4 linked regions of the Homo sapiens genome follow. The protein of the gene in region 3 interacts with the protein of the main gene of each other region in a pairwise test. Each region holds a gene or a part of one and is shown on either strand. Other genes may lie near its edges.

The links.
Region 1: the proteins of EDDM3B (region 3) and JPH1 interact in binary tests that used the Homo sapiens proteins (3 or more experiments, as listed by UniProt).
Region 2: the proteins of EDDM3B (region 3) and SUSD3 interact in binary tests that used the Homo sapiens proteins (3 or more experiments, as listed by UniProt).
Region 4: the proteins of EDDM3B (region 3) and TMEM106C interact in binary tests that used the Homo sapiens proteins (3 or more experiments, as listed by UniProt).

The regions. Positions count from the first base shown.
Region 1 is NC_000008.11:74,311,469-74,318,733, forward strand, and holds part of JPH1 (junctophilin-1), read right to left. Parts: intron 4,153-7,265; coding exon 3,393-4,152; intron 1-3,392. UniProt on the Homo sapiens protein: Junctophilins contribute to the formation of junctional membrane complexes (JMCs) which link the plasma membrane with the endoplasmic or sarcoplasmic reticulum in excitable cells.
Region 2 is NC_000009.12:93,053,664-93,061,739, reverse strand, and holds the start of SUSD3 (sushi domain-containing protein 3), read right to left. Parts: upstream 3,040-8,076; 5' UTR 2,998-3,039; coding exon 2,910-2,997; intron 1-2,909. UniProt on the Homo sapiens protein: May play a role in breast tumorigenesis by promoting estrogen-dependent cell proliferation, cell-cell interactions and migration.
Region 3 is NC_000014.9:20,764,187-20,771,545, reverse strand, and holds EDDM3B (epididymal secretory protein E3-beta precursor), read right to left. Parts: upstream 3,143-7,359; 5' UTR 3,040-3,142; intron 1,414-3,039; 5' UTR 1,396-1,413; coding exon 952-1,395; 3' UTR 598-951; downstream 1-597. UniProt on the Homo sapiens protein: Possible function in sperm maturation.
Region 4 is NC_000012.12:47,958,715-47,966,595, reverse strand, and holds the start of TMEM106C (transmembrane protein 106C), read right to left. Parts: upstream 3,001-7,881; 5' UTR 2,892-3,000; intron 2,799-2,891; exon of another isoform or gene 2,627-2,798; intron 2,388-2,626; 5' UTR 2,360-2,387; coding exon 2,173-2,359; intron 1,315-2,172; coding exon 1,251-1,314; intron 759-1,250; coding exon 599-758; intron 508-598; coding exon 367-507; intron 1-366.

The sequences.
Region 1 (7,265 bases), on a different chromosome or scaffold from region 3:
GGCAGCAAATCTTAAAAGAATCTTTTCTTATTTTTAAGGCTTTTTAAAATTTTTTATTTTATTATTATTATACTTTAAGTTTTAGGGTATATGTACACAATGTGCAGGTTAGTTACATACATATACATGTGCCATGCTGGTGTGCTGCACCCATCAACCCATCATCCAGCATTAGGTATATCTCCCAATGCTATCCCTCCCCTCCCCCCACCCCACAACAGTCCCCAGAGTGTGATGTTCCCTTTCCTGTGTCCATGTGTTCTCATTGTTCAATTCCCATCTATTAGTGAGAACATGTGGTGTTTGGTTTTTTGTCCTTGGGAAAGTTTACTGAGAATGATGAGTTCCAATTTCATCCATGTCCCTACAAAGGACATGAACTCATCATTTTTTATGGCTGCATAGTATTCCATGGTGTATATGTGCCACATTTTCTTAATCCAGTCTATCATTGTTGGGCATTTGGGTTGGTTCCAAGTCTTTGCTATTGTGAATAATTTTTAAGGGTTTTAAAAGACTGTAGAACTCTAAAATCAGAGCTATTATAAGGGGAATGTCATTCCTTTAACTGCTTCCTCCAAAAACAAGTTACAAAGCTGTAATCGGAAGTATTCATTATATAATAGCAAGGAATCTGGGAAAAGGACTAAAACAGTGAAGGTAAGTAAAATATAGAAGGTTAATTGAATATATTTATTTTTAATTTGTTGATTGTGTCATCCGAACAGTATTTTATTTATTGTTGTAAGAACACTTAACATGAGACCTACCTTCTTAACAAATTCTTTTTTTGTTTTTTTTGAGACAGGGTCTTGCTGTGACACTCAAGCTGGAGTGCAGTGGCACAATCACAGCTCACTACAGTCTCGACCTCTGGGGCTCAAGCCATCCTCTCACCTCAGTCTCCCAAGTAACTAGGACAGGTGTGCGCCACCGTGTCCGGCTAATTTTCTTATTTTTTGCAGAGACGGGGGTCTCACTATGTTGCAGAGATTGGTCTTGAACTCCTGGGCTCAAGAGATCCTTCTGCCTCAGCATACCAAAGTGCTAGTATTACAGGCATGTACCATAGCACCTGACCTTGACAAATTCTTAAATGCAAAATGCAGTATTGTTAACTATAGGCACAGTGTTGTAGTGCAGATCTATAGAATGTATTCATCTTGAGTAACTGAAACTTCGTATCTGTTGAACAGCAACCCTCCATTTTCCCCACCCTACAGTCCCTGGCGACCACCATTTTACTCTATGTTTCTATGAGTTTGACCATTTTAGATCAAGTCAGGTCATTGCAGTATTTGATTAAGTGAGATCATGCAGTATTTGTTTTTCTGTGACTGACTTCTTTCATTTGCATAATGAATTAAGCATTTTAAACATAGCTAAGTAACTATGAAGTAACTAACTGGCTAAAAGTATAAGGTCTTAAACTAAAGATCTCTTGATTATAACTATATAATACAGTATTCCCAAATGAAATAATACTACCCCCAAAAGACTTGCAACAGAGAGAACATGGCTAGGACTTGGGTGAGGGTTTTATGATACTAGCATAATCAGAGATCATCTCTGCATTGCCAGTCGCTTTCTGTTATACAAACTCCTCCAATGGAAACTAATGATAAGTCGTTTGTTAAAGTGTTCTGCACAGGTTCATTTTTCACCTCCCAAGACTGAGCTGACTTTAGCATGTCACTAAGTTGTAACAAGAAAACATGGAAGAATCCAAGTGTGCATTTAAAATTAGAGGTCAAGGCCTAACAAATGTTTATCACTAGGTCTAAAAGTAAGCCAGCAAGATTAGATGTGCTGAGTATCTGATCTATAAGCAAACTGAAAAGCAAAGTAGATCCAAAACTGTGATCTGAAGTAAAAGATGCCTGGTAGAGAAGACAGGAGAGAGAGAGACCCTTCATTAAAGTTTGTGCTGATCAACAAAAAATAATAGCTTTGAAATGAAATTAGTTTGGGATAAAGATGAAAACCTTGAAGACTTTTAATATATAATATAATATATATCTAAAAGTAATGCAAAATATGCAACCTTATTTAGTGGTAGCCCTACTTATTTTTTAAGTAGAGGAATTAAAAAAAAAAGAACTCTAGAAGTACTAAGTTGAACCATATGATGTCACCATTTTTTTTTGTACATTAAAAAATTTGAACATTGGAAATTTCATATGGCTCCATCAAAAAAAAGGGAGGTTCATTAATTCAATGCCAATAACAAAAACCTGAAGACATGCTAACATTTTGTGGTTTCAAAAGGGCGTTTACTTCTGTGGAAGAGTGTTATTGAAGCAGAAACAGGATTTTTAATATTCTATGCTACATTTATGCTTCAAGTCTTACAAAGCTGTGGCTAGTCAGTACTCACTTAAATAAGACTAAAAATAAAATTTTCCATTTATTACCACACCTTTTTCTTTTTGTCTCACCTATGATATCCTTCCCTAATAGAACTTTATTCCCAATAGATTTTTCCATCCCTCTTGCTGGATCCCTGAAACCAGCTATTAATGGTAAAACTTCAAGCACGTAGTCCTTCTGTGCCCACACATACACCCCACTTGTCAATCTATTATTCACCGGTTTTCTCCTACTCACTCCAGCCCTTCTCTACTGCTCTTCTTTCTTCCAACCTTGGCACATTGAGAGTCCCATCTGTCCATGTCAGGTTGTCAGGTTCCCTCCACCCCTTTCCTTTTAATACACCAGTGACCTAATCTCTTCTGCATAGAATGTGGCGATTCTTGTAGGTCTCTTTGCCTTTCCCATGTAGCTGTTGTTTTTAACAATGCATGCCAGATTTTGTCATGTTATTTTCCACTTTTGCCATATGTAGATTTTGGTGGCTGTCTCAAAACCAATTTTACCTATAAGACTTCATAAACAGAATCTGAATTGTATAAGCTAGGCTAAGTGTACATACCTCCGATGTAAATATCAGAATAAAGGTACACATCTATACTAAGTATGTTTCTACGTGGATTGCTATTTTCTTTTGGTACACAAAACACAATGCTTGCTATGGCAGCATTTCAGAGGTCCTTCTTACAAAAAAAAGAAAAGAAAACAGCAACTTTCCGGGCTCAGGAAGATGAGCACAGGGTCTCAGTGAACTCCCTCACGCTGTTAAATATGAGGGAAGTAATTTAGAACAGGAAGGGGAGCTCAAAGTGCCTTCGACATTTTTTGATGATGGGAAGTTTCAGAACAGTGCAGGTACATTTCTGACTTTGATTCTACTGAGTGTAATCATTTTTCACCTTTGATTTTTTAGTAGTTGTAGAAAGCATTTAGCGATGTCACTGGCAGATAGACAAACATAATATTTGATACTCCATTGTTCTGACCAACCCAGCAAAACCAACCACCCTGCATTTACTTACCTTGAATTTGCTATTTCCACTTTGGTTCTGGCCATGGCAGCTGCCCTTTGGGCGCCTTCAATTGCTCTGTCCACCTTCTCCCTAGTTTTTGTATGTCTTATTGGTATAAGCTGCTTCCTTATCCCACGGACCAGAATATTATTTTTGTATTTTCCCTCTTCTTTGGAGCCGTCAGGAAACACGGTACAGCCATATCCATGCCTCTTGTTATTTGCCCACTCCCCTTCATACTTCATGCCATTGGAGCGCTCGCTAACGCCGAAGCCGTTGCGCTTGTCGTTCTTCCACTCGCCCATGTAGGTTTCCGTGGTGGTGGCGTCCACGTGGTCTTCCACCGGGCAAAAATCACAATCTACATCGCCAAAGCTGATCGTGGAGTTGGCATCGCTGGAACTAATTCTGCTCATGGCCGCGTCGCTGCGGACAGAGCTGCGCTTGCTCGAGATGGAAGACTTGGATTCGGACTTGCGAAGTTTCATGCTTCCAAGAAGGGAGCCCCTCCGGAAGAGGCCGCCCTTCTTCTTGCCCGCTAGCTCAGCGTCTGCGTGGAAGTTGAGCACGAAACCGCCGCGGGTGCCGGCCGGGCTGTCGGCGGCGGCTGCGGCGTCGTGGAGCACGCTGCCATTGCTCTGCTCGCTGCGCAGCGAGGCCAGCGAGGTACGCAGCGGTGAGCGGATCACCGTGGCCATGCCGTAGGGCACGCTCTGGCGCACGCCGTAGCCATGCCGCATGCCTCCGGCCCACTGGCCCTGGTAGGTACCTTGGAGAGACCGCAAGAAAGCACCGTGAGTCGGGGGCAGAGCTGCACCGTCACCTGCACCATCCAGCGCACACTGGCGCAGGCCTGCCCAAGGTCAAATCTGACCCATTTCCAAGTCAACCCTGGGGGATACTTTGCATCCACTTGTGAATCCCCGCCCTGTAATTTTGGGTGTAAGGCTTTAATGTCATTGCACAGAATTTTCTAGTAGTCAGATAATTTTTGCTTTTCATTAAAATTTTATGCAAGTATTTCAGAGGAAAACCACTACTTTCTAATACAAAAAGTGAACACTGGGAAACAACATTCTCCTCTGAAATTAATGCATCAAAAATTCCTCTTGGGAAGAAGACAAGGAAACAGTAGAAGATGAAATGAATTCTATGTGTAAATTTTATTCTAATATTACTAATTTAGCTGGAAAACTGTAAAAAATGACTTTTAGGTCTATGTCAGTATAACATTCCAAGAAGTATACAGGCTTAAATCGGAATACTTGGGACACAGTCATCAAATGAACGTCTTAAATTTTCTGCTACATTCAGCATCTCTTTTTTTAGTGTAGACAAAACTGTTGAATATTCAGGATTATCATTTGAATTTGGGTGAACCTTTTTGAGCTAAGAGAGAATCGACAACCACAATATATATTATGAATACAGTGAATTATGAAAAAAATGAGTAATTTAACATTTTTGTGCTTCTAAGTGAAAAGGCCAAAGCTTTGTGCCGTATCATTTGCCAAATCTCTGCATCCTCTATGGATTTCCCTAGCTGCCACTGCATTGTGAATCACACCACAGACTAGAAGCACCCTGAGGGCAGGAATTACTTCGTATGAGAACACAAAATTCTCATGTGTCCTCTGGTCTGTGTTTGTGGATGGAGGGTGTTTGATGACTATGTTGACGGTAAAAAGCTATGGTGGCTAAAAAGTATACCCTTTACTCTTGGAGAAACTGATGTAAGGCCAGATGAAATCTTCTACTGTTACCATTTTGGACTTCATCTCAGAGGAAAGGTATATTTGACACTATCTATTAAAATGTTGATACCAGATGACTCTGTCAACAAATATTATGCTTTTTCATGATAGTCTGTCATCTAGAGCATTTGTAGTGAATTTTTTGCTACTAAATAAATAAGCAAAGACATTAAAAAATAACCTGGTACAGGTTTTAAAATAATCTTAGGAGGAAATGAATGTTAAATTAGGGAATTTAGAAGTTTCTTTTCAAAATCAATTTCCTTTAATTAAGGGTAAATTTTAATTTACAGTATCCCTCAAAAGAAGCTATCTGGAAAATTTAAAATGTAATTACTTCTGTGTTATTCATAACAATTCACAATGTCATAGAAAACAAATAATGATTAGTCTGTCTTGACCTCTTTCCATTTCTGATTATATAGATCTACCCTGCAGTCACTTTGCATTTTATATTTCCATGCACAGATTTCCATTGCATGGCACATATTCATTTTCAAAACACCGGGCAAAAATGCTAGTGGTTTTATATAACTGTGTTAACAATGGCTGGTTATTTCATTGCACTTAAAAGTTAAAACCATAATGACTCCCAAGTCAACGGTTTTGACCAATTTCAAGACTACCTTCTCTTTTTGTTCATTCTGGCATATGTGACACAGGCAATAGTAGATATACAATGAAATACTAAGTGGGTCTGGTACTGTAAATGTCATATTCTGGGTAGATGTGAAGTCTTAACTTGACATCTATGAACTTCTGAGGAGGTGGGTGGCCCACAGTTTTCTCTGAAAGATTAACTCAAGAGGATAAGATAGTCATGTAAAACATTTCAGGCTAAGAAGCTTCCTATTGAATACTGGCCATCTCCAAATACCGCCATCTTAACAGGAATGGGAATGGAATTATTAGGAAATTTTGACTTTGACTTTTCCTTTGCCTATACAGGTAAAATTTAAATTCTAGGATGAAAGTTTCACAATCTGGCTTGAAGATACTAAAATAAACCACCTTATTTTTAATATTTTGTTGGTTAAAAGAATGCTATAATCACATCCTCCTAACTTTTGTCTATAGTGACAAGTTAATTTTGCTAGAACAATTTGCAGAGATGCTGTTTGATATCAATAAGTATCTGCACTTTTAAAACACAGCCATACCATCTTGGTAAATGTTTAACACTGATGGAAAATTAACAGCTAGTTTCTTTAAACTGTTATCTCCAAAAATAAGACTAGTACAGTATTTAGAATTTCCAAAAAAGTATGGCTTGAAAATCCAAGCTGTTTAAGGCAACAGCAATAATTAGAAAGTTTAAGTCTCTGCTTAACTGTCAAATAGGGAAGGGGGGGACAAGAGCATTGGCCACATTCCTCTCCTATTTTGTTAAATCACAGTATATGAAAGAATTCCTCCACAGAATTGCTAGAAACCAATTTGCAGTCAAACTGTTAGCAGTTCATCTGAAATTTAAAATAGGTTTAGTTTAGTCAATGAACCTAGAATAAGAAAGGGCCTATTTCTTTATGAAGCAGGTGGGTTCCAACTTCTCCCTGCTGCTCAAATAAAGTTCTAATTAGTTCCTCTTGATTCCTAAAATGTAGATGCATATTTCACAAGTATAAAAATTACTTTTACCAGTTTTAAACTGTGTTCATTTGGGAGCTAATTTTTTAGATTTAGTCATTTTAACTACACAATCTTGTAGTGGAAGGCATCCAGTTTAGGAGTTTCAGTCAAATTTGCACTGCACTATGCCAAACTTCAGTTTATATGCTCCGAATGGGTATGTGCAAGTATGCATCTAGTTAACAAAACGTTGTGTTTTCCCAGATATTTTCAATAGTTTTATGACAAGTGAAAAAACAAAGTACAGATCAGAATTAGCACAAAAAATTCTGGGCACCTAGACTTGGATTTCATGAGTATGATACTAACTTATTGTTAATATTCAGGGGGTTTCTATTTCAGCAACATGTAATACACAAATCACTAATAAAATAAGTGATACGTCTCACATGGAATTACTGCTTCCTTCCTCCTCCAGTTTAATGTCACCACAAAAAAACTCGGAATCAGATTTTCCCTGAATCTGATACAGGGTGTACAGGGATGGACATGTGGCGAT
Region 2 (8,076 bases), on a different chromosome or scaffold from region 3:
TTGCACACAGAGGTGCTTTGAGAACAGGACCCCCAAGACCCTGGCAGTGGGGACAGGCCTGGCCCCAACACTACATGTGGGTGTCCCACAGCCCTGGCTGTGTGTCTTCAGGTAAGTCACTTGCCCTCTCTGAGCCCATCTCCACATGGAGGGTGAGCACAGGCTTCAGAGCCACTTCTGCCTTCCATCTCCAGGCTGAGCAGCAGGGTGGCCTCAGGATGTGGAAAGCACACAATCCTCCATAAAAGAGCTGGGCTAATTCCAAATGAGGAACATGTACTCCCACATCCCTGGTGGAAAACCGAGGGTCCGGGAACCTATGCCTTCTACCAGCAGCTCTTTCGATGCCAATGGGTGGCAGGAGGCCATAGCCAGGCATCACAGGGTGTGTCTGCCTTGCTTTGATTTACACATGCATTCACGGGGTCTCAGTTTCTCCTCTGTAAAATGGACACAGTCCAGTTCTGGGGCAGGAGTTCAGGGGTGAAGCCAAGAAGGCACCAGCAGAGCATGCCTCCTGCTACCCCCTCTCCAGGCCCTTCCTCCAAGGCCCTTCCACGGATGCCAGGGGGGTTACCTACAGCCACTGGAACCCTGCTTTCCTGGACAATCTCCCAGATCAGGGAGTGCTGGGGCTGACCTGGGAGCAGGGCCAGGGGCCAGTCATACAACAAACATGATAAACTCCTACTCTGAGCTAGTCTCCCCCGCGCCCTGCCCTTCTCCCAGGGCGCTCATGGGAGATGAGGGAAGACCACTTCCTGCCTCTCAGGAAGATCAGTCTGTCCACACTACTGTGCTCTTCATATCTACTCTAGGAAAACCAGTGGTAATGGCCCCATTTTAAAGATGGTGGGAAAAACACACATCCCCGTGCTATGTTTTTGGTTTTTGTTTTGTTTTGAGACAGAATCTCGCTCTGTTGCCCAGGGTGGAGTGCAGTGAGGTGATCACAGCTCACTGTAGCCTCGAACTCTGGACGAAAGCAATCCTTCCACCTTTCAGCCTCCCGAATAGCTGGGACTACAGGCGCATGCCACCATGCTCAGCTAATTTTTTTTTTGCATTTTTTGTAGATACGGGGTCTTGCTATGTTACCCAGGTTGGTTTCGAGCTCCTGGACTCAAGCAATCCGCCCACCTCAGCCTCCCAAAGTGTGGGATTAGAGGCATGAGCCACCACTCCTGGTCAGTGGTGTTTTAGTGTCAAATCCTCTCCAAAGGCTCCCAACCCCCCAGCCTCTAACTTCACAGCACATTTCACAGAGCAAGAAACTGAGGTCACATGGCAGGGGAGTGATGGAGTCCAGATGATGGCATCATCCCTGCACCAGAACAAGTACCCTCCCTGGGCTCCACTGGGCCTGTCCACAAGCTTGGGGGCAGGTATACAGTGGGGAAACTGGGGCACATGGGGAAACTGAGGCACAGAGGTACAGCGACTCACCCCAGGTCACAGGGGGGATCCTAACCCAAAACTCCAACAAGGGGGCCAGTGCCTGGGAAGTGGTCATGGTGGTCAGAGGCAGAGCCAGGGCCAGGCAGGATGAACAAGAGCACAGGGTGCCAGACTAAGCTCCATTCCCAGCACAAATTCCAAGGCAAACAGCCTTTTGTATGCAAATATGCCAGAGCCTCCAGATACTCCCTGGCCTTGGGCTGACCTTGGGCAAGTCAAGGCTATCCAAAGGGCACTGGCACCCACGCCCCCAGGCTGTTGTGCCAGTAGAAGGGGCTCCTCAGGTAGTACCAGGCCCTGGGCAGGCCTTGCTCAAACACAGGAGCAAAAGTGCTCATCACCCCAACACCAAATTAGGGACTCTGGACATTAGGCTGCCAGAGTCAAACTAAATAAACCAAATCCACCAGCGCCAGGAACAAGTCTCAGCGCCCACTTTGCTGAGCTGCGGACCTCTGCTCGGTGAATTAGCTCCCTGAGCCGCAGTTTCCCCAACTGTGAGAGGAAGCCATTCTCCTGCCACCTTCCTGCCAGTTCCCTGGGGCTGCAGGCTGACAGTGTGACCTGGTCCAGCCCACCCCACTCCGGGCCTCAGCTTCCTCCTGCGCAGAGCCTTAGCCCCGCAACGCCTGAGACGCCCAGAACCCTCAGGCCTAACGTTCGTGGGCAGTGGCCGCGGAAGTAAGCTTTTGGGATATCTGAGACCCAGAGTTCCGGTTTGGTTCCGTTTCTAAAAGGGTTAGACTTTAGAATCATTCAAGGAGCAAGGCCAGCATTCGAACCCCGGAGCCTTGGGCACGGGAGCAGACAACTCTTTAAGCACATTCTTGAATTCAAACACTTAAAAGTAAAATAAAAAGCAGCTTCTCTTCCTTCCAAAGGCCTCTGAGCCTCCTCCGAGACAGCCGAGGCGATCCCAAGCCTGGCTACAGGGTGACCTCGGACAGCCACTCCCCTCTCGCAGGCTCAGTTTCTCCATCTGTAAAGTGGAGCTGCGCTGGTCACCAAGGAATCGTGAAGATGACACCTCCCTCAGGCGCAGAGAGGGCTCCCGGCTCCCCCCTCCCGCCCCCGCGCCACCCGCCCGCCAGGTGAGGCCGGTTTCGACTTCCCCGGGAGGGGCGCGGAGGGGCCCGGAGCCTGCGGCGTGGAGAGGCTTGGCCGGCCGCGCTGTCCGCAGACGCCCGGGACCAAGGCGCTGCGGCCACTCGGGAACGGGCGCGCGGGCTGCTGCGTGCAGCCGCCTGGTTTCGAACTGCTCGCTGCCAGGCTTCGGCTCCGCTAGGGCGCCTGCTGGGCCGGCGGAGGGTCGAGGAGGTTCGTCCTCGGGGCAGATCGTTGCTGTGGCCCCCACCCACGGCTGTGCGGCCCCGCGACCCCCTCCCCTCGGCTTTCCCGTCTGTGAAATGGGCGCAGAGCCCCGCACGCGGCCACTCGGCCCCAGCCCTCACCTGTGCGGTTCCCTGGGGCAGGCGTGGTGACCCCGGCCCGCCCCCGGGGCCTCGCCTTGCCACGGAGGGTGGCGGCCGCCCAGCGCATCCTGCGCGCTCCGAGGCGCTTGGCGGGGTCTGCCAGGGGAGTGAGCCCGGCTTGTGGGGGCGGGGCCTGGGCCTGGGCCTGGGTGAGGGGCGGGGAGGCCCCGCCCTCCACGCCCGCCCAGGGGCGGTTCCATGCAACTTACAGACCACGCCCACACGTTGGACTGGGGCCGAGGTCCGGCCGGGGGCTGTGGGCGGGGGCCCTTGGGGAGACCAAATACCCAGCGGGCCAAGGCAGCCGGCTGAGCGGAAAGTGTTGCTACTCCGGGGCGTTGCACGCGTGGCTACCTCTGCCCAACACCCTTCCCCCATCCCTTCCTGTTCTCACCTTCACTCCTAGTGTGGTTTTTCCATGTGCTTCTGTGTTTTTATTTTTTGAGCAGGATTTTGCCTTCTCAGGGTGCCGGATTCGGCCGGTACCAAAGGGCAAACAGCAAAACGCCTCCCCGGCCCGCCCCTCCCGTAACCCACTCACCCCCAGAGTCCTGTGTGGACCCAGCCTTCTTTCCCTGTCTCTCACTGGGCCAGGCCGTCTGAGGCACACTGAGGTCTGGGTGCCCTTGTTGTCTTCGGTTCTCACTGAGGGGCCCCCGGCTGGGGGAAACAGGATGGAAAGCCCTGGGGTCTGTCTGCAGGGCCCACCACACCTGGAGGCCTCCCTTCTCCTGGCTTCCCCTTCCCACCCAGCTCCACTTGCAGCAGGCCCAGAGCTGTGATCCGGGCTCTTTCTCTCCCTCTGACCCCACCCAACCCAGGCTTAGCCCCCTGCCCAGGCAGCCACCAAAGGGTTGGGTGTGGTGTCAGGCCTCAGACATCCTGGATCTTGGGCTGCTTGTGGGAGACCACCTGAGCCATGCCTATTCCTGTGGAGCTGGCAAAGGCAATCCTGGCAGAGGGAACAGCAGGTGCAAAGGCCCTGGTTTGGCAATGTGTGGCAGCAGAAGCCCAGTGCGGCTGGCTTAGGCATGCCTCCAGGAGCGCAGAAGGTGGCCCAGGTGGGCCAGGCTGGCTCTAGAGTGCCTGGCAGGTGACCGTGAAGAGTGTGGATGTTCAGGTGGACCATGAAGCAGGGTTCCAGCAGGGCAGCCCCTCCCCGTCTCTGCTTTCCGAGCCCTCCAAAGCTGAGGTTCAGTGTGAAACGTGAGGGGCCCTCCCCCTTTCGCCATCAGGGTTGGCGTCACCCCTGATATGTTCTTCCCACTTGGACTTGTGGGTCACACACGATGGCTTACTTCAATCTCCTTTATTCAAAATCAAGCATGTGTATTCTTTCTGCCATGTCGGGAAGGGCAGGGCCATCAGCAGTGCCCACTCCAGACCACACTCTGGGACCCCAGAATGTCTTGCCAAGTGGCCCCTAGCCCACCTCTCAGGCCTGTGTGGTCCCTTCCCTGGTTTTGCCCACCATGCACCACCAGGCAGAAGGCCACTGCCTGTAGGTGCATGGACAGGGCTGGGAGGGAGGTCTGGGGCAGCCCTCCAATAGCTGGGTGGAGCTAGGTGGGGATGGAAAACACCAGGCTGCCTGCAGCTCCCTAAGCCACCACGCTGTGACCCAGGCCTTCAGGAGCCTTCAAATGCTAAACACCTGGCCATTTAGGAAGTGTGTTTCCTAGAGCTGTGTAACATAGTACCCCAGACTGGGTGCCTGAGAACAACAGAAATTTATTGTCTTATGGTTCAGGAGGCCAGAAGTCTGAGATCAGGGTGTCGGCAGGCCTGCAGTCCCTCCAAAAACTCCAGGAGAACAGCCTTCCTTGTATCATCCAGCTTCTGGCAGTTCCTTGGCCGGTGGCAACTTAACTCCTGTCTACACATGGTGCTCTCCCTGTGTCTCTCTGTGTTCAAATCTCTCTTCTAAGGACACCAGTCATATTAGATTAGAGCCCACCGTAATGTCCTCATCTTAACTTAAGACCCTATAAAGAGTCTGTAAAGACCGGCCAGGCTCAGTGGCTCACGCCTGTAATCCCAGCACATTGGGAGGCAGAGGCAGGTGGATCATAAGGTCAGGAGTTTGCGACCAGCCTGGCCAACATGGTGAAACCCTGTCTCTACTAAAAATACAAAAATTAGCTGGGCATGGTGGCGCGTGCCTGTAGTCCCAGTTACTTGGGAAGCTGAGGCAGGAGAATCACTTGAACCCGGGAGGCGGAGGTTGTGGTGAGCTGAGATTGTGCCACTGCACTCCAGCCTGGGCAACAGAGCAAGACACCATCTCAAGAAAAAAAAAAAAAAAAAGAAGAGTCTGTAAAGACCTTGTCTCCAAATAAGGTCATATTTGGAGGTACTGAGGGTTAGGACTTAAACATATAGATTTTGGGGGACACAGTTCAGCCCCTGACAGGTGGGATCAAGGAGGAAAGAGCATGTTTTTCTGAGCAGTCTGTCGCTTGGTTGGGTTGTGGACATTCAGGCTTGTGGCGCTGGGCCTCCATTTGTACTGTTAGGGGACCTGGAGGTGGCCTAAGGACCTCTGTCATGTCGTTTCCACAGGGAACTGTATGCCTTGCTGTGGCTCAGAACACCCATTTGCTGCCAAAAGGCCATCTTCAGGAGCTATGGGAGGGATCTGAGGCTGGTTCTGGAGGTGGGCCTGTCACCTATTTGAACACTGATCAGGGCCATCTTGTCCACCTTTTCCCAGGCCCTTGGAATGGTTTGCTCCTAGAAAGCCCAGCTATTCTAGCCATGCACGTGGGCGAAACTGAGGCATGTGAAAAGAACGGCACTGGCCCACTAGGGACAACCGCCTGGGGTGCCCCCTTCCATGGTGAGAACCATGGCTCTCTGACAGGCTTCCCTGATCCCTGGGGCAGGGGTGGGCACCCTTGCACTGAGTCTTCGTGTTCTCATCTGAGGGGTGGACATTGTCCTGCCACCCTCTCAAGGCAAGTGAGAGACTGTGATGTGCTCAGGATGGAGTGGTGGCCTCTAAGCTGGACTGTGAAGGCCCGTCAGCTTTTGAGCTTGGCCCACCCGCTCAGCTGTCCTAGTTGCCTGGTTTCCCAGACTCTCCAAGTCTAGGCACAAACTGGGAGCAGTGCTTAGGCTCTGCCTGCTTGGGTGTGTCTCCTTGCCTTCCTCACCCTCCTTCTCCATGGAGCCCTCCCTGATGGCACTCCCTGTCAGAGCCATTTCGTGCTGCCTGTCCTTAAGGCCTGCTCAGCCTGTGTCACGTCTCTGAAATGAAGAGGACATGTGGCCAGGTGTGGAGCTATGGACATGTGGCCGGATATGGCCGAGAGGATCACTTGAGGTCAGACACACCTGTAATCCCAGCTACTTGGGAGGCCGAGGCACGAGAATTGCTTGAACCTAGGAGGCGGAGGTTGCAGTGATCTGAGATTGCACCACTGCACTCCAGCCTGGGTGACAAAGGGAAACTGTGTCTCAAAAAAAAAAAAAAAAAAAAAAAAAACGCAAAACATATGGGCTTCCCTGCTGGAGGAGGCAGGGGAGGAGGCTAGGAGGAACGGATGGGCTGCTGGCTGCTGGTGAGGCAGGCCGGGAGAAGGAAGCAGAGTCAGGCACAGCCTGAGGAACTGACCAAAGCCACAGCCTCTTCCCAGCTCCATTTGCAACTGGGAGCACACAGTGCACTGTCAGTGGACACTTGTTGGATGGAACCTGGGAGGCAGGGGAGGCCTGCCAGCCCTGGGGCTCAGTGTTCCACTCTGTAACATGGGGGTCTTGTGCGCTGCCAGAGGTTTCCAGAGGAAGGTGAGGGTCTGGCTTGGGAGTTTCCTCTTTCCTCAGACCTTAGCTGAGGTGTTGCCACCCCCAGGAAGCCTTCCTCAACCCTTGATTTGCCTGACTCAGCACCCATGGGCCATGGTGGCCTGGGAGGGGACCCATGCAGAAGTCTGGTGGTGGCAGAGTTCTTGGCTTGGTGAGTTTTTCTAAAATTAGATAATAATTGTGGAAATCTAAAACAGTTTGTTTTGCCTTTTTTTTTTTTTTTTGACAAAGTCTTGCTCTGTCACCCAGGCTGGATTGCAGTGGCATGAGTTCAGCTCACTGCAACCTCCACCTCCTGGGTACATGCAATTCTCCTGCCTCAGACTTCCAAGTAGCTGGGATTACAGGCATGCACCACCACGCCCAGTTAATTTTTGTATTTTTAGTAGAAACAGGGTTTCACCATGTTGGTCAGAGTGGTCTTGAGCTCCTGACCTCAGGTGATGCACCCTCCCTGGCCTCTCAAAGTGCTGGGATTACAAGTGTGAGCCACTGCGCCCAGCCTGTTTTGCTTTATTCTTGATTTTAGTTTTTACTCAATAGAAAAATGAGATTTTTGTTCTGAAAACCTCTCACAATAGACCACGTCCAGAAAGTTCTTTTGCAAAAGGTAAGAGTCAGGGAAGCATTGGTGGCCTCATGGGTGTCCTCTCTTTTTAAAAACTGTATTACCTTTTAAAAACTAAAAGCAAAAAAAGAAAAAAAAAAAGTAACCTGACCTTGAAGCTCTAGCAGGCCAGATGTTTGCAGAGAAAACAATTTTCCCAAAAATGTTTTCTGCTGGGCCATCTGGAGCCCTCAACACCCACCACTTATCCTCCTAAAGCAAGGCAAGAGCCCTGTCCCCACTGTGCAGAGCGACAAAGGCCCCTCCCCGGGGGTACTCCCCTGCTGGGGCCTGAGCTGTGACCACCAGACTGTCCTACCTGGCTGCAGCCTGCACAAGCAGATCAGTCAGCCTGGGTGACATGACATCGAGCTGCCGCCCTCAGGTTCAGAAATGGTGATGCAGAGACACAAAGCAAGGCGCCCAGAGGGCAGAAGGAATGACAGATTCATGGAACAGCTACTACCAAACACCTACTGCATGCCAGGCCAGTTTAGAAGCTGGGATACAGCTGGGCCTAGGAGGGACAAACTCTGGCCAGGGGCTGCTCCCCCCATGCTCATCCTGCACACCAAGGCCTTTACCTGGCCACCACTGGGCTGGCAGATAGCAGGTCATCTTTTTTCCCACCCCTCAACTCTTTTTGTACTTTCTGAATTTTCCACAATGAGCATGTATCTATTCTCTGATAAGAAACAAGGATTTTAAATGCTTTGTAAATGTAAACTATTG
Region 3 (7,359 bases):
ATCTTCATGATAGAGTAACTTCCCTCTCCTCTTAGAAAGACTTCATCGCTATCACATTAAGATGGAATGTTAAATACACTCTTTTAAATTGGAAAGGAAATGAAAAACTATAAAGAAAAGAAAAGAAGACTTGGGGGACAAACTGTAACTAATTAATTTGTTGTAACTCTTAAACCAGCTGTTATAGAAATTGTTGTAATCCTGTTAAATTCTTTTGTCTTTTTCCTACATAAGCAAGAACTTAATTTTCAGCTTTGGAACACTGACTCCATTTCTGTGGAGTCTGTGTGTTACCGAATGGCCACTCCTAGCCTTTTGCTTGAATCAACTCTTTAAAACTGGATTCTGACACTTTTGATTATTTCAAATTGATGCTGCAATCAATGCCTACATCACAACTTGTCTTGAACTAAGCACACAATCATTCATACCCTCATCATATACACAAACATATTACATACATTAGATATGCACCCATAAAATACACCTTCAATCCCTTGCACAGCATCAATCACATGCATAGTCTAGATCACACACACCCATATCAATCACACTATACTCACTCTGTGCACATAACATATATGAATGTCACACACATTGCAGTCATATAATTTATTTAGGGAAGGGAAGATTGTTCAGCTTGGGTATGTATCAAGAGAGTCAATATCAGGAAAGTCTTGGGTTAATCAAGAACAGATGCCATATGAGCTGAATGTCGACAAAAGTATAAGAGTAAATTAGGTAAATGAAGACAAAAGTGTATTCCAGGCAGAGAAACAACACAGGCAAAGTTATGGTATCAAGAAATTATGCTATTCATAACTCTAAGTATTTGGAAAACATTGACAAATAAATGCAAGAGGGGAGTGGTAGGACTATTGATGGAGGCAGGGGCTGCTACTTAGAAAGCACTGAATACTCTACCAATACCTGAGGATGTGCATAGACTTTCTAGTTGCCGATAGGTTCTACCATCTTTAGGTCTTCTATGCTATCAACATACCCGTCCATGCTACAATGGAATTCAATGTAGTTGAAGCTCCTGCTCTCTGTGTAGCTATTTTTGGAATTCTCCTGGTGACACTTGAGTACTTTGAGAGGATTCTGGACCCATACATATGCATTTCGGAAGCGATCCATCCAGTTGTCACTAGTGCATATATGCTCGATTTTGTACCATGAGATATAGATAAACATGTGAGAGCTCTTGTCTTTCAGAGCTTCATTTTCTCTCATGAGGACATCACATTTGTACTCTCTGAATTCTCGACTTGGACTTAAGTAGTGCTGTTTCATGAATTCTCTCCAAGAAACTTCTTTGCTCTGTACAAGCAGTGTGCATAGGATGCAAAGTAGGGCCAAGAGTGTGCCCCAGATCTTTAGAGACGATGCCATCTCAGTCACCGGGGCCGCCTGCGTGTCCACAGAGAAGAGAAAGAAAAGCATTATCCAGACAATGCCCAGAGAGCTGAACTCCACCTTAAAATTCCTTCCCCACCAGGCAGGCACTTGGGTGCAATTTTACTATTTGGTTCCCCGATGAGAAGATGCTAATTCTCATTAGAGAATAGAGTTTCTAAGAACTAAAAACACGCTTCAGCCTGTGTAAGCGAAACACATAATTAGAAAAAATAGATGAAGTTCATTTTGAGAATTCCAACCATCTCCTCTCATCCCTCTCTTACACCCAACCTGAGGAGCCAATCACCCTCCAGCTGGCTCCTTTTTACCAGACCAACTCTCAGGAGATCATGTGTCCAAAAGAGAATGATATTTTAAGGTTTATGTCCTTGAAGTGGAAAGGGTTGTCAGATTTTAGGGAAATGTAGAAAATGAGTAACTACTTGGGAAGTGGTTCCTAGGTAGGAAGGCTTCGATTCGCTAAAATGACAGCCTAGCCTGCAATTACTTCTTGCCTGCTTCTCCAATTACTTAATGATGCTTCTCCAATCTTGACTTCCTTATAACACTTTCTCCAAAGCCTGAGTGGAACGTATGTTCATTACTAACTACCCATATTCCTTCTCAGGGGTCATTCCCCTAATTATCACTATTACAAATGATCTTGGTTTGTCAGAGCTGCTCCTTGAAAATGTCATCATAAAATAACTCCAGTTTTGAGGTTTTTATTTGTTTATTTATTTTTGAGACAGAGTCTCACTGTGTCACCCAGGCTGGAGTGCAGTGGCACAGTCTTGGCTCACTGCAACCTTCACCTCCAGGGTTCAATAGATTCTCTGTCTCAGCCTCCCACGTAGCTGAGATTATAGGTGCCTGCCACCACACACAGCTAATTTTTGTATTTTTTTTAGTAGAGACAATGTTTCGCCATGTTGGCCAGGCTAGTATCAAAATCCTGGCCTCAAGTAATCTACCCACCTCGGTTTCCCAAAGTGCTGGGATTCTCAGGCATGAGCCACTACACCCAACCAGAATTCCAGATTTGAAATATTCCTGTAATCAATCAAGCACCAAGACTAAAAGAGCCCCCACAGTGGCTTCTGTGGTGATAGCATGGAGTGTGGGGATCTTTTTGAAAGAGTCTACCGTTTAAACTAGTGCTCTGTCCTCATTTACCATGAGAAGTGTTCCCGCCCTTACTGAATCTCTAACCTGATTCACAACTCTGAGCATTGGTGTCCTCAGATGGACTTAATAATAGCTCCCTACAGACCTGCAAGTGTCTAATGAGACGCATGTATTTGAGAGCACTTCTAATGATGTCAAATGTCCACATCAGACACAGAACAAAGGGTCGGTACTTCCTATCTGTGGAACCCTGTCCTGATGATAAAGACCTACAGAGGATAGAAGAGCAGGATGTAAGCGGTTTTAATGCATTGTGTTTGAGAAGACTGGGGGTGAAGGAAGGGAGGGGCAGGGAAAGCCTGTATCAGTGGGACTGAGGCTGACCAGAATTCACACCTTTGTTTTCCATGATTTGGATCCTTCTCCATTGTTTGCTATCTAAAAGTTCAATCAGCCTCCTTTCAGTGCTCCTGGCTGTCCCCCAAACATCCTCAGCAGAGCCCTTCTTACCCTACTCAGACTCCAAGTTCAGGTCACTGGTTGTAGTTGGGATCAGTGTGTGGATCTGAAGAGCAGAGTCTGAGTCCTCCTTTCCTCAGGGCCCTGGAAATCTGCAGCAGTGGAGAAAGGAATAGCAGGGGGAGCTGCAAGGCTCCAGCTGATTGGTAGTGGAGGTGGTGATGGGGAATAGCCTTATTATGTGAACTTGTTCCTGTATCTTCTCATCTGGAACACTTGAGTTTATTCAGACAGTGGCCTCAAGCAAAGGCTACAAACATCAAAGGCTGACTCCAGGGCACAGAAGAAGTGCAAGACCCTAGAGTGAGGTGACCCCAGAAAGGGGTTATCTGGTGCTATCAGTAGACAACGAGAGACCTGGCTTCTGCACTCAATTTCTGACAAAGTTCTGGGAAGTCCCTGGAGGGTTATGCTATGTTACACAGAAACTTCTCTGAAGAAAGCCACTTATAACATTGTGAACTGTGGGACTTTCGTTGAGAGGTGAAAGAGTATCTAGTGAAACTGGTGGCCAGATAGTTATGATTAGGTAGCCAGTATCTGAAGTTTTACTAGGCAGTTTGTTATTGTCGATGAAACGAGTCAGCTGGGTGTGGTGGCTCACGCCTGTAATCCCAGCACTTTGGGAGGCCAAGGCGGGAGGATCACCTGAGGTCAGGAGTTCAAGACCTACCTGGCCGAGGTGGTGAAACCCCATCTCTACTAAAAATACAAAAATTAGCTGGGCGTGGTGGTGGGCACCTGTAATCCCAGCTACTTGGGAGGCCGAGGCAGGTGAATCGCTTGAACCTGGGAGGCAGAGGTTGCAGTGAGCCGAGATCACGCCATTGCACTCCAGCCTGGGCAACAGGAGCAAAACACCATTTCAAAACAAAAGAAAAGAAAAAAAAAAGAGTCAAACTCTGTAAAATATTTGAAGAGATTTATTCTGAGCCAAATATGAGTGACCATGGCCTATGACACAGCTCTCAGGAGGTCCTGAGGACATGTGCCCAAGGTGGTTGGAGCACAGCTGGTTTTATACATTTTAGAGAGGCATGAAACATCAATCAAATACATTTAAGAAATACATTGGTTTGGTCCAGCAAGGCGGGACAACTCAAAGCTGATGGGGAGTGGAGGGCCTCCAGGCCATAGGTGTATTTAAACATTTTCTGGTTGACAACTAGTTTTGTCTAAAGACCTGAGATTGATAGAAAGGGAATATTCAGGTTAAAATAAAGATGGTAGAGACCAATTCTTTCGAAGTCTTATAGTGGCTGCCCTTAGAGACAATAGATGACAAATGTTTCCCTTTCAGATCTTAATTAATATCTTTAGGATTGGAAGGTCTGGAAGAAAAATATTTAGCTATGTTAATAGAGATTCTTTACAGATGCAAATTTTCCCCCACAAAGAACAGCTTTGCAGGGCAATTTCAAAATGTGGCAAAGAAACATGTTTTGGGGCAAAATACTTTTTCTTGTTTGTCTGGTAATGTTATGCCAGAGTCAGGTTGGAAAGTAAAACATGATATACAGGGTTAAATAAAACTCATCTGATGAGAATTGATGATTTGTAGGGCATGACTCCCCAGACCCCTTAGATAGGAATTTGGGCAAGATAAAAAAAATCAGAGTTTAGTCCTCATTAACAATAACCTTTGCTGACGCTGTAGTCCTTACTGCCTTAGTAAAATGTCAGGTAGCCTAGCCATAGTTTCCACAATGTTCCTATATATCACATCTGACTCTGAAGTATGCATCACAAGGTGTTGACCTAATTGTTTTTCAGGAACTCAAGACTCAGCCCTAAACTCAGCTCACTCTGGTCAAGACCACCAGCCCTTAAACTGAGTTTGTGTGAGCATCCCATGGGTGACCTTTCCATATCACATCTGGAATTTCCAGCACGTTTCATACCAACTCCCCCTAAATTGGTATATGCAACGAATATTGTTTCAGTAACAGTAACCAAAGGTTTCACTTATGGATAATGTAAGATACTTGAATGTATTTTCTTTTTCTATTTATTTATTTACTTTGGAGACAGAATCTCCCTCTGTCACCCAGGCTGGAGTGCAGTGGAGCAATCTTGGCTCACTGCAACCTCCATTTCCCAGGCTCAAGTGAATCTCCTGCCTCAGCCTCCCAAGCAGCTGGGACTACAGGTGGGCACCCCCACACCCTGGTAGTTTTTTGTATTTTTGGTGGAGGCGAGGTTTCATCATGTTGGCCAGGCTGGTCTCGAACTCCTGACCTTAAGTGATCCGCCCGTTTCGGCCTCACAAAGTGCTGAGATTACAGACGTGAGCCATTGTACCTGGTCTTGAATGTATTTTCTATCAACATCCGCAAGGCCACTCCTACCTGAGCCACCTTGGTTGAGTTTGTCACTGGACCACCTAGCTATTAGAATGTCAGAATATTCCGTTTATATCCAGAACTTTTCTTCATACTTCAGCTCCTGTCAAGCAATCATTGAATAATAGGGAATCATGTGCTGATAGACTCTGTGGGGCACGGGAGAGATATTGTTCCTATGGAACTGAACTGGGGTCTGATCGTCCAGCACAGTAAGATCAAATATCCACACCAAGGTCTGCGGCAGGAGAAAGGAGGGAGTTTATTTGCAAAGCAGCAAGCAAGGAGAACCTTGTGGCTCACACTGAAGACCTGACCTCTCTGATGACTTCAGGTAAGGGTTTTTAAAGGCGGGAAAAGGCCGGGTTCGGTGGCTGACGCCTGTAATCCCAGCACTTTGGGAGGCCGAGGCAGGCGGATCACGAGGTCAGGAGATCGAGACCATCCCGGCTAATACAGTGAAACCCCGTCTCTACTAAAAATACAAAAAAATTAGCCAGGCGTGGTGGCGGGCGCCTGCAGTCCCAGCTACTGGGGAGGCTGAGGCAGGAGAATGGCGTGAACCTGGGGGGTGGAGCTTCCAGTGAGCCGAGATTGCGCCACTGCACTCCAGCCTGGGCGACAAAGCGAAACTCCGTCTCAAAAAAATAAATAAATAATTAAATAAAGGCGGGAATAAATTTCAGGAAAGCAAAAGTTACAGGCAAAATAGTAAATTAAAATGTGGAGATTACACATTAGTTTGGCTGAATAAGGCAAGGTATTGAAGCAGGGGCTCACAGGTCATAGGTAGAGTCAAAGATCATCTGATTTGCAATTGGTTAAGGAGATGAAAGTTTGTTTAAGAATGGGGGTCAGCAGAACAGAATGTTAGCTTTGGATCATGGGTGTGACTTTCTCCAGGCCACTCGAAATAATTTAGATGAACGGTGGTGAGAGTTTAGTCCTCAGTTTCCCCCTTATCTGAGGTCTATGTGCCAGCAGATCTGTTTGTTGGGGGTCTGAGTTTCTGAAGAACTCAGGGATGTATGTTAAGATGCTATTTTTAGTTTCTATAGGGAACCAAACATCCCCTGATTCTAACTTCCCTGGTTATTGTTTTAAGCTAGCATTACCTTCTTGCTTATCTAGTTCCTCTTTTTTCTTTTCAAGGCTAGCTAAGAAATTGAAGATTTTCCTTTATTTCCATGCTGGGTTGGGGAGGGTGCCCTGCTCACCTCTAAGATAGATCCCTGCTCTGTCTTATTGCCTCAGAGCAGGTTCTATGCATCCTCCTACTCTCTAGGTCTTTTGATGATAGAGAAGAGATAAAGGAAACAATTCTGGGCATCTGGATTTGGATGACTTGAGAGGCGATTCTGAGGGAAAATCAGTCGTTTGTCATGTGCCCACACATCCAGAGCTCTTTCCAACAAGTGTGCATTATCTATTGAAGACTTAAATTCAAGTAGTGACTCAAGGAATGTAGAGAGAGGTGGGAGAGAGAAGCTACCTGAGCCAATGTTCGAAGAAGCAAGCTAAGAAAGAGCTCTAGAGCTTTTCAAGGCATCATATCTGATGATATATTCTAGTACATCAGTGAGTAATTTTGAGAATTTTTAGAAGTAATGCATTTGAAAGTAGTTTTAAAACAATAAAATGTAACCAAATGCAGGCTTGGCTGCTTGCAAAACCAATAACAAGGACAAGATGCAGTGAAAAGAAAGAAGCTTTATTCCAGAGCTAGCACTGGAGAAGTGGCCATGGCTTGTGCCTTAAAGGAACCATTTCAAACTTTAGCCTGGGGAGAGGGGCTTACAAAGGGAACTTGCAGTGGGTGGCATGCAAGGAGTGGTGCTGGGTACAGGTCCGTGCGTCTCGTTCTGGTGGCTATCTTGAGTCATGGTCCACCTGGAGCATGGGCTGGCATCATCCCCACAATGGCCGGGTTGTTGACTAACTGCTTTGAGGTAATCTCTGGAATTTTGCA
Region 4 (7,881 bases), on a different chromosome or scaffold from region 3:
ATTCTTCCATCACATGCAAAATACTTCCCTGAGATTGTCCCTAATATAGTCTATGAGCCTCTAATTGATACTGCCAACCTCTTCCCTTTTGAGAGGCCAATGGACCTCAGGCTGTAACACTGCTGCTTCTTATTTTGTAGCAAATCTTTGTCTCTTACAAATTATTCTGCTCCCCAAATGCTTAAATGATAGCTGTTTTTTCTCACAATTATTTATAATTACAGGGCCCAACAGGTCTTCCTCATCACCAGTTCCTACAAGTAGAAATGAGGAGACAAAAAGGAAAGTGACACAGCTATGGCATTCCTACAGCCCCCTACTCTTCTCTTAGGCCTGTGGGGCAAGATTCCTAAAAGAACAGCATACCAGTTGCTCACTCCGAGGTGGAATAAGGGAGACGTTAGTAGTCACATATGTACTGACCACTGTGTTCATGTACTGAATCTGGCTGGACAGGCTGGTCACTGCCACCGTGTAGAAGTTGGAGTTCCTGATTTTCAGGGTGGCCTACATCAGGGCAAGTCAGGAAACAAGTGTAAGTGTCCTGGGTCCCAGCCTGGCAGGTGCACAACCCAGGGAATGAAACCCTAAGGCTTACCATGATGGTGAGAATTACAAGGGAGTCTTGCTTATTAAATGTGACTTTCACCACTTTGATGCCGTCATCATCCACAAGGACTGAATGCGGAAACAGGAAGAAAACCACCAAACCAGATGCCAGGAGACAAAGCAGGATGGACAGGAGGACATATTGCTTACTGCAAATGACACAGCACATGACCGACCCAGGCAGTCAGATATCAAGGTTCAATGTGTCAAGATTAAACACAAAACCAGGAAAGAGAAGGGAGCTGAAAGGGAAGTTCCAAGAGCCAGGAACCATAAACCAGTTAAGAAGCAGTGAAGCAGGAGAAACCTTTTAAAACTCCTTTAAACACTGTTTGCACTCTGGGAAGAAAAGCTGAAGAAAGGAGCTATGTGGACAGAGACAGTCCCACACCTCCCAGAACACTCCACTTTCCCAGTTTCTTCTGATTCCATTCCTTGACCTTCAAAGCATTTCCAGCTTCAAGTTTCTTTCCCCAGATTGTGATGGGGGCAGAGATATCTTGCTTGGGCAAACAGTTATAAGGAAAATGGGGAACTTATAAGAACATGTGTAGTTTTCAAAGAATTAACTGGCATTCATACATACAGAAAGAGATTAGGGACAGAAGTAGGTATTAACAGGTGAGAAGCAGGTAACTCACGTTCGCTGAGGGCGCAATCTCTGATCACTGTGTGGGATCAAAGCCACCAACTCATTTACTTGCTCTAGAAAAGAGCCAAACAATTATTTTGTAAATCCCATGTGTTGGCAGTACTTCCTTCACGTCTCACTTGAGCCTGCCACAACAAATATTCTTCTGGAATGAGACATTTTAAAAAATACTAGTGAAATTCACATGTTGGGTCTAATGAACAAGAAACAAGAGAGTGCCACAAATTATAAAACATCTATCAGTGCTGCCAGGGTAGTGATGTGGAAGTTGAAAAACCTGGGATCCTGTTCTGGCTTTACTGCATGGGCTTGGCAGAGTCGTCGAATCTCTCAAGGCCATGGTTTCCTTGCCTTTCATATGGAAGCTTTGGAGTAAATGATTTTGAAGGTCCTAACCAGCTCTAAATTTCTGTGACTCTCCAGCTAAACTGTTAAAGACTTTCTGAGGGCCAATTTGTTAATAGTAATAGATGATCCTGTACCAAGGCTAAGTATTTGTCTCTCTCTCTTGACCTGATATATTTTTCTGACCTTAGGCTGTTAAGGATTAGCTACCCATTTCCTTGAAAAGCAGCTTCCAAGATGGTTCCCCCGCAAAGCTGTCCCAATCCTTGTGACAGCGATAAAGAAATGTGCCTGTCAACAAATCCCACAACACAGAGCGAACTGAATGTTCCAAACCTCAGGAAAAGAACAAGAGTGGCGGTAAAGAAAAGAAAGGGTTGGAAAAATAAGGAGAGGAAGAGAAGTTGCAGAACTGCCCAAGTGTATTAAGTCAGTTGAGCTGGCTCCTGTCCAGGGCACTGTCTCTATTATGGTATTACTGCCTAGAAGAAAAGTTGTCTGGGCAGACAGGAGAACTCCGAGGGTACCTTGGGATTCTCATCAGGGAATCATCCCTCCATGATCACCTGTTGGAATGTAGCCTGTCCCCTGGCACGTGAGACAGGTGATGCTATCTCTCCCGGTGAATTCCACATATGGGAACTGAGCAATGGCTTCTTCCTGCTCTCGTTCAGCCAGCAAACCGTCCCTGTCATCTTCTTGCTTTCGCCTGCAGGAGGAGGGGCGAGCAGCAGCGGAATGCTGAGACCCCATGGCCGTGATATGCCACTGGTGTCATGTCCTAAGATGAAAAGAGGGAGTGCACGTTAGCGGCCCCAGTGAATCACGACAGAAATCGCTTGTTTCTATAAGAAAATTAAAAACGCAAAAATGACAAGTTGCCGCCCTGAGTGTGGTCCCAACACCTGTACGATTTCTATCGGGACCCTCATTTTGTAGTAGTGCTACCCACTCTCCTCTTACCCGCCACACACAGCCGGCGGGGGTGGGGAGGGGGAACGGGGCCTGCCTTTCACGCACCTGCCTCGATCCTCACCGCCCTGGGACTTGGGGCACCCCCGCTCCCACCTGGTCCAGCCTCGCCCCTTCCTCTTCACTATTTGTAAGCTCTATGCCCCTCCTCGAGCAACAAACAGGCACCAAATTGATAACCGGCCTTAACGATTCCCATTCCTCTCCACCCCCCAGCCCCAGGAGGCGGGCTCAGGTCACGCCCCTTGGCAAAAAGCGATGCTCTGAGCCCACCAAAGTGGCCCAGGCAGGAGCGAACGCCAGCGTCGCAGACCTGCAGGGCACGAACTCCCGGCAGCTCCTCTCCGGCCGCTCCCCCGACCACCTGCCAGCTTGAGGACTTACCAGCCTCTTCGGTCGGCGGAGCGGCACGCACTCAGCGCGCAGGCGCCAAATACCAAGCCCGCCAGGAGAACGCGGGCGCGCGCTCGCGCGTGCGCTCTTCGCGGCTCCGGAGGCCTTCCCAATATCGCAGCTGTCTGGCTCCCTCGGTTCCGGTAGAGGGCGGCAGAGAGCGCCGGGGAGCCGCGACCCTTGCTGTTGGGCCGCGGTAGTCCGCGGAGTCGGGATGATGCTCTGCTGTTCGCTAGATAGGCTGGGAAAGGCTCCAGTCAAGTTTCCAGAGCAAAACACTTCTCTGCTGCGAGAGGAGGAAGGTGCTGCCGGCTACCGAAGCCATTCTGAAATATTCTTTATAGTACAGGAGCTGTGTAGTCGCTGAGGGTACACACATGCGGAGCATTCGGATAAACTGCCTTTGCAAAAATTGTAAGTGAGAAAATTATGACAGTGAAAGAGATCTGACTTACCCAGTTCCGTCTTGCTTCTAACCTCCGAACTGCCCTTGTTCATTCCTGGGTATAGGCCAAACTAACTTTGGGAGGAATTTAGTTTATAGTTGAACTTCGAAGCAAAGATAACAGCCCTTCCCCAAAACAAACCCCCTTCTTGCCTGGGGACCAGACTGCCTTTGTAAGACTAACAAATTAGCCACAAGATTAGAAATTATGGTTTAGGAGTCATCCAGACAGAGGTCACAAGATTCCAAACCTTCCCTATTGCTCCAAGGGATAACATCACTATTGTAAAATCTAAGATCGGTGCTGGGGATATTTTTCAGACCCTGCATTCTGAGGCACCAGCTGGCAGTACCTAGACCAGTTATCTGGCTCAGCCAGTTCTGCAATCCCACCCAGGAACAGAAAACAGCAAGAAGAACCCACTTAGACCCCCCTATGATTTCATCTCCAACCTGACCAATCAGCACTCCCCACTGCCTGATACCTACCAGCCGAATTATCCTTAAAAAACCCCAGTCTCTGAATTATCGGGGAGACTTATTTGAGTGATAAAACTCTGGTATCTCATTCAGCCGGCTCTGCATGAATTAAAATCTCCATTGCAATTCCCCTGTCTTGATGAATCAGCTCTGGGCAACGGGCAAGGAGAACCCGTCCGGCAATTATATCAGAACCTGTCTTCAGTCCAGGAGGGGAACCCAGAGGCTTCATCAGACCCCTCCAATACTGTAGATAAAAGTGCTGCTGGAAGTCTCACAAGTCAGAGGGGCCCAGCCTGGGGGAAACCTTCCATGGGGAGTCCTGCTGGCTTCTCGCAGGAACGGACCCCACAGCTGAGCTTTGCAAGCCAATTAGGTGCCAAGAGGCACCAAGGAGTAGATTCATTCGGTAGTAGGGCCCCCCCTTCCCCAGACCTCCACAAAAAAGGCACGTACGTAAGAGGTTAGAAAGCACTTTTCGTTCGTTTGTTTGTTTGTTCGTTTGTTTTGAGATGGAGTCTTGCTCTGTCGACCAGGCTGGAGTACAGTGGCACAGTCTCAGCTCACTGCAACCTCCGCCTCCCGGGTTCAAGCGATTCTCCTGCCTCAGCCTCACAAGTAGCTGGGATTACAGGCGCACACCTCCACACCTGGCTAATTTTTGTATTTTTAGTGGAGACCGGGTCTCACCATGTTGACCAGGCTGGCCTCAAACCCCTGACCTCAGGTGATCTGCCCACCTTGGCCTCTCAAAGTGCTGGGATTACAGGCGTGAGCCACTGTGCCCGGCCTAGAGGGTACTTTTTAATGGGTGGGTTTCTTTGTTCATACTGCCAGGTTGAGCTTAGCCTGCAGCAGCAGGAGTTGAGTACAGACATTAACCAGGTGAAATTATTAAAGATGATGCTAGGGGAGAGGAGATATTCTGAAATGGGATGAATAAGGGGCCCACTTGGCAATAGAGAGTGAGGCTGAGGCTGGTGACCCCTCAGGTTTCTGCCACCTCTGTATTTTCCTCTTTCTCCTGTGGGGAATGCCAATGTACCTGCTGTTGTCTAGCCATCTGCCTGACCACTGGCCACAATCAGCCCACTGAGTCTTTAGTAAGAGGCAACAAGGACCCTCTACTTCCCCTCTCACATCTCTGATCCACCTCTTCTCCTTCTTGAAATGTTTTTTTTTTTTTCATCTGTTGGGTCACAGAAAACGATTCCCCAAAATATGGTGTTTGAGCATACGGAGTGCTTTTGAGAATTAAAAGAAAACAAGCCTCAGAATCAAGGTACCTCTAACCTTGTCTTGTTCCTCCGCTCAACCCCAAGCATAGGGGAAGACTCTCTCTGGAATTTCCTTGTCTCACCAAGAAAGCTTTTTTTTTTTTTTTTTGAGACAGGGTTTTGCTCTGTCGTCCAGGATCAAGTACAGTGGTGCCATCACAGCTCACTGAAGCCTCAAATTCTGGGGCTCAAGCAGTCCTCTGTGAAACAAAAATAAAGCTAAGTCTTCTCTACCCCCAGCCATCTGCATGGACCCCTCCTCTCAGCCAAGGGCATTCCAAAGTTAACCTGAAAAACTAGTTCAGGCCATGATGGGAAGGGGGAGTCAGACATGCCTCACTACCGTTGTGAAAGAAAAATAAATTTCAGGACCCCCAAATCATGAAGTCAAGGGAAAAGTCAAGCTGGAGACTATGTCAGGCAATTCTGCCTCCCATTTTATTTCTAAATAAGGTAGCTACAAAGATCAAAATTACATATCCCCCTCACAATTTGCCCACAAGGAATTTCCTTGTGGACAAAGGACAGACATGACTCAAAGTCATCTTTCTGAGGCTCACCTGAGACAAATGTGTATTCGATTGCCTCCTCTGCCCTACGGTGTATGTAAAAATGCAGGTGTACTGAGCCAGACTAAATTGTGTATTCAATGGAAGGCGGATGTAGGACTCAAAAGAATGCAACCTTTTTTCTCTTATCTATTTCTGACCTGAAAGACCCCCACCTCGGCACCCTTCGAGTTGTCCCGCCTTACTGGACCCAACCAATGCACATCTTACACATAATTATTGATGTCTCATGTTTCCCTAAAATGTTTAAAAGCAAGCTGTACCTGACTACCTTGGGCACATGTCGTTAGGACCTCCTGAGGCTGTGTCACAGGAATGTCCTTAACCTTGTCAAAATAAACTCCTAAATTAATTGAGACTTATCTCTGATACTTTTTTGGATGATACCTCCCACGTCAACCTCCCAAGTAGTTGGGACCATAGGTGTGCACCACCACGCCGGGCTAATTTTTAAATTTTTACTGGCGATGGGGTCTCCCCCTGTTGCCCAGGCTAGTCTCAAACTCCTGGGCTCAAGCAGTCCTCCTGCCTCAGCTTCCCAATGTGCTAGGATTACAGGCATGAGCCACTGTGCCTGGCCAAGAAAACTTCTTACCAAGAGTTTGTATCCCATCCCTGAAATATCATGATCTATGGCAGAGAAGAAGACTGAAGAATGCAATCATGCTTGGATGGAATTTTTCACAAGATAATGCCTGCCTTTCCTGCTCATTCAAATTGCAAAGAGAATCATTTACAAGTTAATGTGTCTGCCTTGTCTATTCATTCTCCCTAATCATTTACTGCCCCTCAAAAGAATTGCTTACATTCCCCATCTTCTCTCTCCCCTGTAAAGAAGGGTTGTATCCATTCTCAGACTGCTATAAAGAACTACCTGAGACTGGGTAATTATGAAGAAAAGAGGTTTAATTGAATCACAGTTCCACAGGCTGTACAGGAAGCATGGGTGGGAGGCCTCAGGAAACTTACAATCATGGCAGAAGGTAAATGGAAAGCAAACACATCTTACCATGGCAGAGCAGCAGAGAGTGAAGGGAAAAGTGCCACACACTTTTAAACCATCAGATCTTGTGAGAACTCACTCACTATCACGAGAACAGCCCCCATGATCCAATCACCTCCCATGAGGCCCCTCCTCCAATTCAACATGAGATTTGGGTGGGGGTACAAATCCAAACTGTGTCATTCCACCCCGGCCCTCCCAAGTCTCATGTCTTTCTCACATTGCAAAATACAATTATCCCTTCTCAGCAATCCCCCAAAGTCTTAACTCATCCCAGCATTTACTCAAAAGTCCAAGTCCAAAGTTGTTACAGGAAAGGGGTCCCGATCCAGATCCCAAGAGAGGGTTCTTGGATCTCGCTCAAGAAAGAATTCAGGGCGAGTGTGCAGTGCAAAGTGAAAGCAAGTTTATTAAGAAAGTACACTTTGGGAGGCTGAGGCAGGTGGATCATGAGGTCAGGAGATCGAGACCATCCTGGCTAACATGGTGAAACCCTGTCTCTACTAAAAATACAAAAAATTAGCCGGGCATGGTGGCGGGTACCTGTAGTCCCAGCTACTCAGGAGGCTGAGGCAGAAGAATGGCGTGAACCTGGGAGGCAGAGCTTGCAGTAAGCCGAGATCGTGCCCGTGCACTCCAGCCTGGGTGACGGAGCAAGACTCCGTCTCAAAAAAAAAAAAAAAAAAAAAGAAAGTAAAAGAATAAAAGAATGGCTACTTCATAGACAGGGCAGCCACAGGGCTGCTGGTTGCCTGTTTTTATGGTTATTTCTTGATGATATGCTGAACAAGGGGTGGATTATGGATTATTCATGCCTCCCCTTTGTAGGCCATATAGGGTAACTTCCTGACGTTGCCATGGCATTTGTAAACTGTCATGGCACTGGTGGGAATGTAGCAGTGAGGACGACCAGAGGTCACTCTCATGGCCATTTTGGTTTTGGTAGGATTTAGCTGGCTTCTTTCCTGCAGGCTGTTATATCAGCAAGGTCTTCATGACTTGTATCTTTTGCCGACCTCCTATCTCATCCTGTGACTTAGAATGCCTTAATGGTCTGGGAATTCAGCCCAGTAGGTTTCAGCCTCATTGTACCCAGCTCCTATTCAAGATGGAGTTGTTCTGGTTCACATGCCTCT